2 linked regions of the Homo sapiens genome follow. The protein of the gene in region 2 purifies or fractionates together with the protein of the main gene of each other region. This does not show direct contact. Each region holds a gene or a part of one and is shown on either strand. Other genes may lie near its edges.

Region 1 (3,500 bases), on a different chromosome or scaffold from region 2:
GGTAAATTAACTGAATGTGCAATATGATCTCAAATATTATAAGAAACACACACAGAAAAAAATGGAAGGAATATGCCGATATATTAATGCCTCTGGATGAGTTTATGAATGATTTTTTCTTTTTTATATCCCTGTACTTGACATATTTTCTACAATAAGCATGTTTTATTTTACTATATTTTGTTTTATTTTGAGATGGGGGTCTCCCTATGTTTCTCAGGCTGACCTTGAACTCTTGGGCTCAAGCAATCCTCCAATATCAGCCTCCTGAGTAGCTGGGACTACAGGTGCACCCCACTGCACCCAGCTGCGTGTGTTATTTTGATATCGATGGAAAAAATAAATAAAATGTTTAAGCCAAGGAAAACAAAAACTAGGTTGAAAAAGAAGGCCAAAAGGGCACACAAGTCCAGAGTGAAAGACAGACACCCCAGCAGTCACCCTCAGAGCAGAGGGAGAATATTGAAAGTATTACCACTGATCTGATCTGGCACTGACTATAAACTTGCAGATTGGCTCTCTGGCTCTCCTTCCATCATCAGTTGGCCAGAATATATTGTCGCTAATGCAAGACAAAAAGAGATGATGAATCACAGAGACCTAGAAGTTTCCAAAACCACAGAAGAAAAATGTAAAATGCTAAAAACATAAGGCCAGGCGCGGTGGCTCAAGCCTGTAATCCCAGCATTTTGGGAGGCCGAGGCAGGTGTCATGGTGTGCGGCTGTAGTCCAAGCTACTCAGGAGGCTGAGGCAAGAGAATTGCTTGAAACTGGGAGGTAGCGATTGCAGTGAGCCAAGATTGCGCTACTGTACCGAAGCCTGGATGACAGAGCGAGACTCTGTCTCAAAAATAAATAAATAAATAAATAAATAAATAAAACATGAACTGCTGTGGAAGAACCAGAGAGCCCTAAGGCCTCCTGTAAATGACTACAGCAGGAGAGTTTCCCTGGTCAGCATGCAGCTTTCGAAAATTGAGTTTGGCTTGATGCCTTCATCACAAATTTGGTCCCCTGTAGCCTTGACTATGAAGCTTATCATAAAATAATTGGGTTTCACTGGGGCCCGAACAAAAGCATCTTGGGAATTTAACAAGATTAAAGGTTGCTTTGTTGCTGTGGGTATGATTTTTTTTTCTTTTTTCTTTTTTTTTTTTTTTGAGACGGAGTCTGACTCTGTCACCCAGGCTGGAGTGCAGTGGCACGATCTCGGCTCACTGCAACCTCCGCCTCCTGGGTTCAAGCAATTCTCCTGCCTCAGCCTCCTGAGTAACTGGGATTACAGGTGCGCGCCACCACGCCAGGCTAATTTTTGTATTTTTAGTAGAGACAGGGTTTCTCCATGTTGGTCAGGCTGGCTGCTCTCAAACTCCTGACCTTGCCATCCAGCCGCCTCAGCCTCCCAAAGTGCTGGGATTACAGGCATGAGCTACCACACGTGGCCATATGTAAATTTTAAACATGTAAACCAATACTGTATATCTTTTATAGATATTTACATCTGTAATGATAATATGAAAACGTACCTAGGAATGATAAACACCAAATTCAAGATATTGGTAATCTCTAAGGAGGGAGAAGACTAAGATTTTGGAGTACATAAAGGGGTCTTGATTATATAGATAGTATTTCAGTTCTTAACACGTTCTCTTCTGGTCCCAAGGCCAAGGAATTCTCAATTGAAATCTCAGTTAGAACGTGAAGGATGCTTCTTGGGACTGGGAAGAGATTTTCCGTAGGCCAAATTTAACCTCCCACTAGAGATAGTTGATAATTCTACCACATTTCATAGTGAAGCATCAGGAAGACAGGACTGAAAAGGCAAGAAGGAATGATGCAAATTGCATAGTCCAAAAGATAAGCTGGACCTAGGTTTGCCAGTTTGTCTAAGTAACTGAGAATTCATTCTGAGATCAAAAAATCAAAATAATGTTCACAGCAGCATTGTTTATCACTGAAAGCAAACAACCTAAATGTCCATCAACAGGAGAATGAATAAATATATTGGAATGTATTCATCATATAGAATATTTTATGCATATAAAAATGAATTAAAACATATGAAGTAGAACTAGCCAGATAAATAAATCCTAACATATTATATTGAGGGGAAAAAAGCAAGTTGCTGGAGAATGTGTACCATATATATATATATAAATTTTCTTTTTTTTTTTTTTTTTTTTTCGCGACCGAGTTTCACTCTTGTTGCCCAGGCTGGAGTGCAATGGCAAGATCTCGGCTCACTGCAACCTCTGCCTCCCGGGTTCAAGGGATTCTCCCGCCTCAGCCTCCTGAGTAGCTGGGAGAGTAGCGTTGGCCCAGCTAGTTTTTGTATTTTTAGTAGAGACAGGGTTTCTCCATGTTGGTCAGGCTGGCTGCTCTCAAACTCCTGACCTTGTCATCCACCCGCCTCAGCCTCCCAAAGTGCTGGGATTACAGGCCTGAGTTACCGCACCTGGCCATATGTAAATTTTAAACATGTAAACCAATACTATATATCTTTTATAGATACTTACATCTGTAATAATAATATGAAAACATACCTAGGAATGATAAACACCAAACTCAAGATATTGGTAATCTCTATGGAGGGAGAAGACTAAGATTTTGGAGTACATAAAGGGGTCTTGATTATATAGATTGTATCTCACTTCTTAACACGTGAGGCAATATGGCACAATTTTAGGATTTTGTAGAGCTAAGCGGTGAGTCCAAGATTGTAATGTTATAGTCCCTGTACTTTCTATTTGAAATATTTCATAATATAAAACAAAGTATATTTGAGGCCAGGTGCAGCAGCTCATGCCTGTAATCCCCACACTTTGGAAGGCTGAGACAAGAAGATCACTTGCATCCAGGAGTTTGAGACTAGCCTAGGCAACAAAGTGAGACCCGTGTCTCTACAAAAAAATTAAAAATTAGCTGGGTGTGGTAGTGCACACCTGTAGTCCCAGCTACTTGAGAGGCTGAGGCAGGAGGATCGCTTGAGCCCAGGAGGTGGAGGCTGCAGTGAGTGGTGATCTTGCTACTGCACTCCATCCTGGGTGACAGAGTGAGACCCTGTCTCAAAAAAATAGAAGGTATATTTGATCAAAGTTTTATATTCACAGTAAGCAATAAGAACCCTAGGGACAGAGAAGGGTGGATGTTCCACCTAAACACTGTGCTTTCATTCCATCAACAATGAAACATCCAGGAAAGGAAACAACAAGTGACTCTAGAAATTCACTAGTTAGACAGAATCTCCTTGGGAATGATTTAAAGAGGGAAAATGTAAGAAAACCTGGCAAGACTAAGAAGAGTCCTCAAGTGCAAAAAAAGTATAGTTGACAGTTACCAGAGACAGATCATCCTTACCAGCCTGGAGGAATATTGCAGAGGAAAGAGCTTAGGATCTTGAATACTCTCTTATCTCCTGTATTTACCACCATTTCCTCTCTTGCTGAACATTCCTAGAAAATGGAGAGGAGTTTGTCACAACTGCTCTTTGATGATAGCCA
Region 2 (3,500 bases):
ACTGTGGCTCACGCCTGTAATCCCAGCACTTTGGGAGGGCGAGGTGGGTGGATCACAAGGTCAGGAGTTCAACGCCAGCCTGACCAATATGATGAAACCCCATCTTTACTAAAAATACAAAAATTAGCTGGGCGTGGTGGCGTGTGCCTGTAGTCCCAGCTACTTGGGAGGCTGAGGCAGAAGAATAGCTTGAATCCGGGAGGCAGAGGTTGCAGTGAGCCAAGATCATGCCACTGCACTCCAGCCTGGGTGACAGAGCAAGACTCCGTCTCAAAAAAAAAAAAAAAATTGCTCTCATGGCCGGGCACAGTGGCTCACGCCTGTAATCCTAGCACTTTGAAGGCCAAGGCTGACAAACTGCTTGAGCTCAGGAGTTTGAGATCAGCCTGGGGAACATGGCAAAACCCCGCCTCTACAAAACAAAAATTAGCCAGGCATGGTGGCGCACATCTGTAGTCCCAGATACTCAGGAGGCTAAGGTGGGAGAATCGCTTCAGTGCAGAAGGTCAAGGCTGCAAGTGAGCTGAGATTGAGCCACTGCATTCCAGTCTGGGTGACAGAGTGAGATCTTGCCTCAAAAAAATAAAAAATAAGGCCGGACACGGTGGCTCACGCCTGTAATCCCAGCACTTTGGGAGGCCGAGGCGGGTGGATCACCTGAGGTCAGGAGTTGGAGACCAGCCTGGCCAACATGGCGAAACCTCATCTCTACTAAAAACACAAAAATTAGCCAGGCATGGTGGCACGTGCCCATAATCCCAGCTACTCGGGAGGCTGAGGCAGGAGAATTCGCTTGAACCTGGGGGGGCGGAGGTTGCAGTGAGCCGAGATCGCACCACTTCACTCCGACCTGGGTGAAAGGGGGAGACTTGGTCTCAAAAAAAAAAAGACAAAATTGTTCTACCATCAAAAAAACTCAGCACTTGTATTTTTCAAAAAAAATTTTTTTTTTTTTAGTACTGTGAGATGCCTGATTTTCACATCAATTTAAAGTCTTGGTCAGGTGCGATGGCTCACAGCTGTAATCCCAGCACTTTGGAAGGCTGAGGCAGGCGGATCACCTGAGGTCAGGAGTTCAAGACCAGCCTGGCCAACACGGTGAAACCCCGTCTCTACTAAAAATACAAAAATTAGCCAAGTGTGGTGGCATGTGCCTGTAATCTCAGCTTCTAGGGAGGCTGAGGCAGGAGAATCACTTGAATCCAGGAGGTGGAGGTTGCAGTGAGCTGAGATCATGCCACTGCACTCCAGCCTGGGCGACAGAGCGAGACTCCATCTCGAAAAAATAAATAAATAAAAAATAGTCATAATATAGCAAAGATAACAGTAATACAGAAGAGTCTTTAAAAATTATATTAGAGCAGATCAAATCTTCTTGAAGTTTAACAGGCATGGCAAAGTCCAGTCTTAAGATAACAAGTCAGCCGGGTGTGGTGGCTCATGCCTGTAAACCCAGCACTTTGGGAGGCCGAGGCAGGAGTATCACTTGAGCCCAGGTGTTTGAAAATGGCCTGGGCCACATGGTGAGACTCCATTTCTACTAAAAATACAAAAAACTAGTCAGGTATGGTGATGCATGCCTGTAGTCCCTAGTTACTCTGGAAGCTAAGGTCGGAGGATCACTTGAACCCAGGAGGTCAAGGCTACCTCCTGGTAGTGAGCAGTGATCACACCACTGCACCCCAGCCCGGGCAAGAGGACTGAGACCCATGGGGAAAAAAAAAGATATCAAGACAAACTGCACCAGCCTGGAAATTGGAGAAAACAGAAAACCTTCACCACCTTTGTAACGATCACCAGAAAAGTGTAAGGAAAATTCAGTATGAAAAATTGTTTAAAGCATTACTTGCCCAAAAGAACAGGAAAGTAAGTCTGGAGGCCCATCAAGCAAGGCTGGTAGAGAAGATGGGCCCTTTCCTGAAGATTCAGCAGGCAAGCCTGCTCTCCTCACCAGCTGCCTGTCATAGTGTTTACAATGGGGTAGGCTCCTGAGGTTGCTTCGGGTTGAGTTTTTAATTTTATTTTTATTTTTTTGAGACGGAGTTTTGCTCTTGTTGCCCAGGCTGGAGTGCAACGGCATGATCTTGGTTCACCACAACCTCCACCTCCCGGGTTCAAGCAATTCTCCTGCCTCAGACTCCCGAGTAGCTGGGATTACAGGCATGTGTCACCACACCCGGCTAATTTTGTATTGTTAGTAGAGACGGGGTTTTTCCATGTTGGTTAGGCTGCTCTGAACTCCCAACCTCAGGTGATCGCCCCCTGGTTCTCCCAAAGTGCTGGGATTACAGGCGTGAGCCACCACACCCTGCCTAGTTTTTAAATGTTTGTTTTACGTTTGCCTTTACTGAAAAACTATCTTAGAAAGTTTATTCTGGGCTGGGCGTGGTGGCTCACGCCTGTAATCCCAACACTTTGGGAGGCTGAGGAAGGTGGATCACCTGAGGTCAAGAGTTCGAGACAAGCATGGCCAACATGGTGAAACCTCGTCTCTACTAAAAATACAAAAATTAGCCAGGCGTGGTGGTGGGCGCCAGTAATCCCAGCTACTCAGGAGGCTGAGGCAGGTGAATCGCTTAAACCCAGGAAGTGGAGGTTGCGGTGAGCCGAGATCACGCTACTGCACTCCAGCCTGGATGACAGGTGAGACTCAAAAATAAAAAATAAAAATAATAATAATTAGTTGGGCATGTTGGTGTGTGCCTGCAATCCCAGCTACTCTGGGGGCTGAGGCAGGAGAATTGCTTGAACCCGGGTGGTGGAGGTTGCAGTGAGCCAAGATCACGTCATTGCACTCCAGACTGGGCAACAGAGCAAGACTCCGTCTCAAAAAACAAACAAAAAAAAAGGTTTATTCTACAGTAAGTACCTGTCTTAAAATGCAGTGATATGGGGACTTTTATTCTATTCACTCTGTGCAAATGCTCCGTGATACATACCTTCTAAAATCATATACATTCAGGCTGGCTATGGTGGCTTGTGTCTGTAATCCCAGAATTTTAGGAGCCCAAAGCAGGTGGATCACTTGAGGTCAGGAGTTCGAGACCAGCCTGGCCAACATGGCAAAACCCCATCTCTACTAAAAATACAAAAATTAGCTGAGTGTGGTGGCAGGCACCTGTAGTCCCAGCTACTAGAGAAGCTAAGGTACAAAAATCGCTTGAACCCAGGAGACAGTGGTTGCAGTGAGCCGAGGTGCCACCACTGCACTCCAGCCTGGGCAACGGAGCAAGACTCCGTCTCAAAAAATAAATAAACAGAATAAAAATTAAAATAAAAAAATCATAGGCCGGGTGCAGTGGCTTACGCCTGTAATCCCAGCACTTTGGGAGTCTGAGGCGGGGTCGGGAGTTTGAGACCAGCCTGACCAACATGGAGAAACCCTGTCTCTACTAAAAATACAAAATTAGCCGGGCGTGGTGGCGCATGCCTGTAATCCCAGCTACTTGGGAGGCTGAGGCAGGAGAATCGCTTGAACCGGGGAGGTGGAGGTTGTGGTG

What was found. Proteins that work in one complex are often made in the same cells at the same time.
Region 1: the proteins of PRPSAP2 (region 2) and BTK purify together in Homo sapiens (co-immunoprecipitation; one large-scale study listed by IntAct). This does not show direct contact.

What each region holds. Positions count from the first base shown.
Region 1 is NC_000023.11:101,379,692-101,383,191, reverse strand, and holds part of BTK (tyrosine-protein kinase BTK), read left to right. Parts: intron 1-3,500. UniProt on the Homo sapiens protein: Non-receptor tyrosine kinase indispensable for B lymphocyte development, differentiation and signaling. Binding of antigen to the B-cell antigen receptor (BCR) triggers signaling that ultimately leads to B-cell activation.
Region 2 is NC_000017.11:18,878,631-18,882,130, reverse strand, and holds part of PRPSAP2 (phosphoribosyl pyrophosphate synthase-associated protein 2), read right to left. Parts: intron 1-3,500. UniProt on the Homo sapiens protein: Seems to play a negative regulatory role in 5-phosphoribose 1-diphosphate synthesis.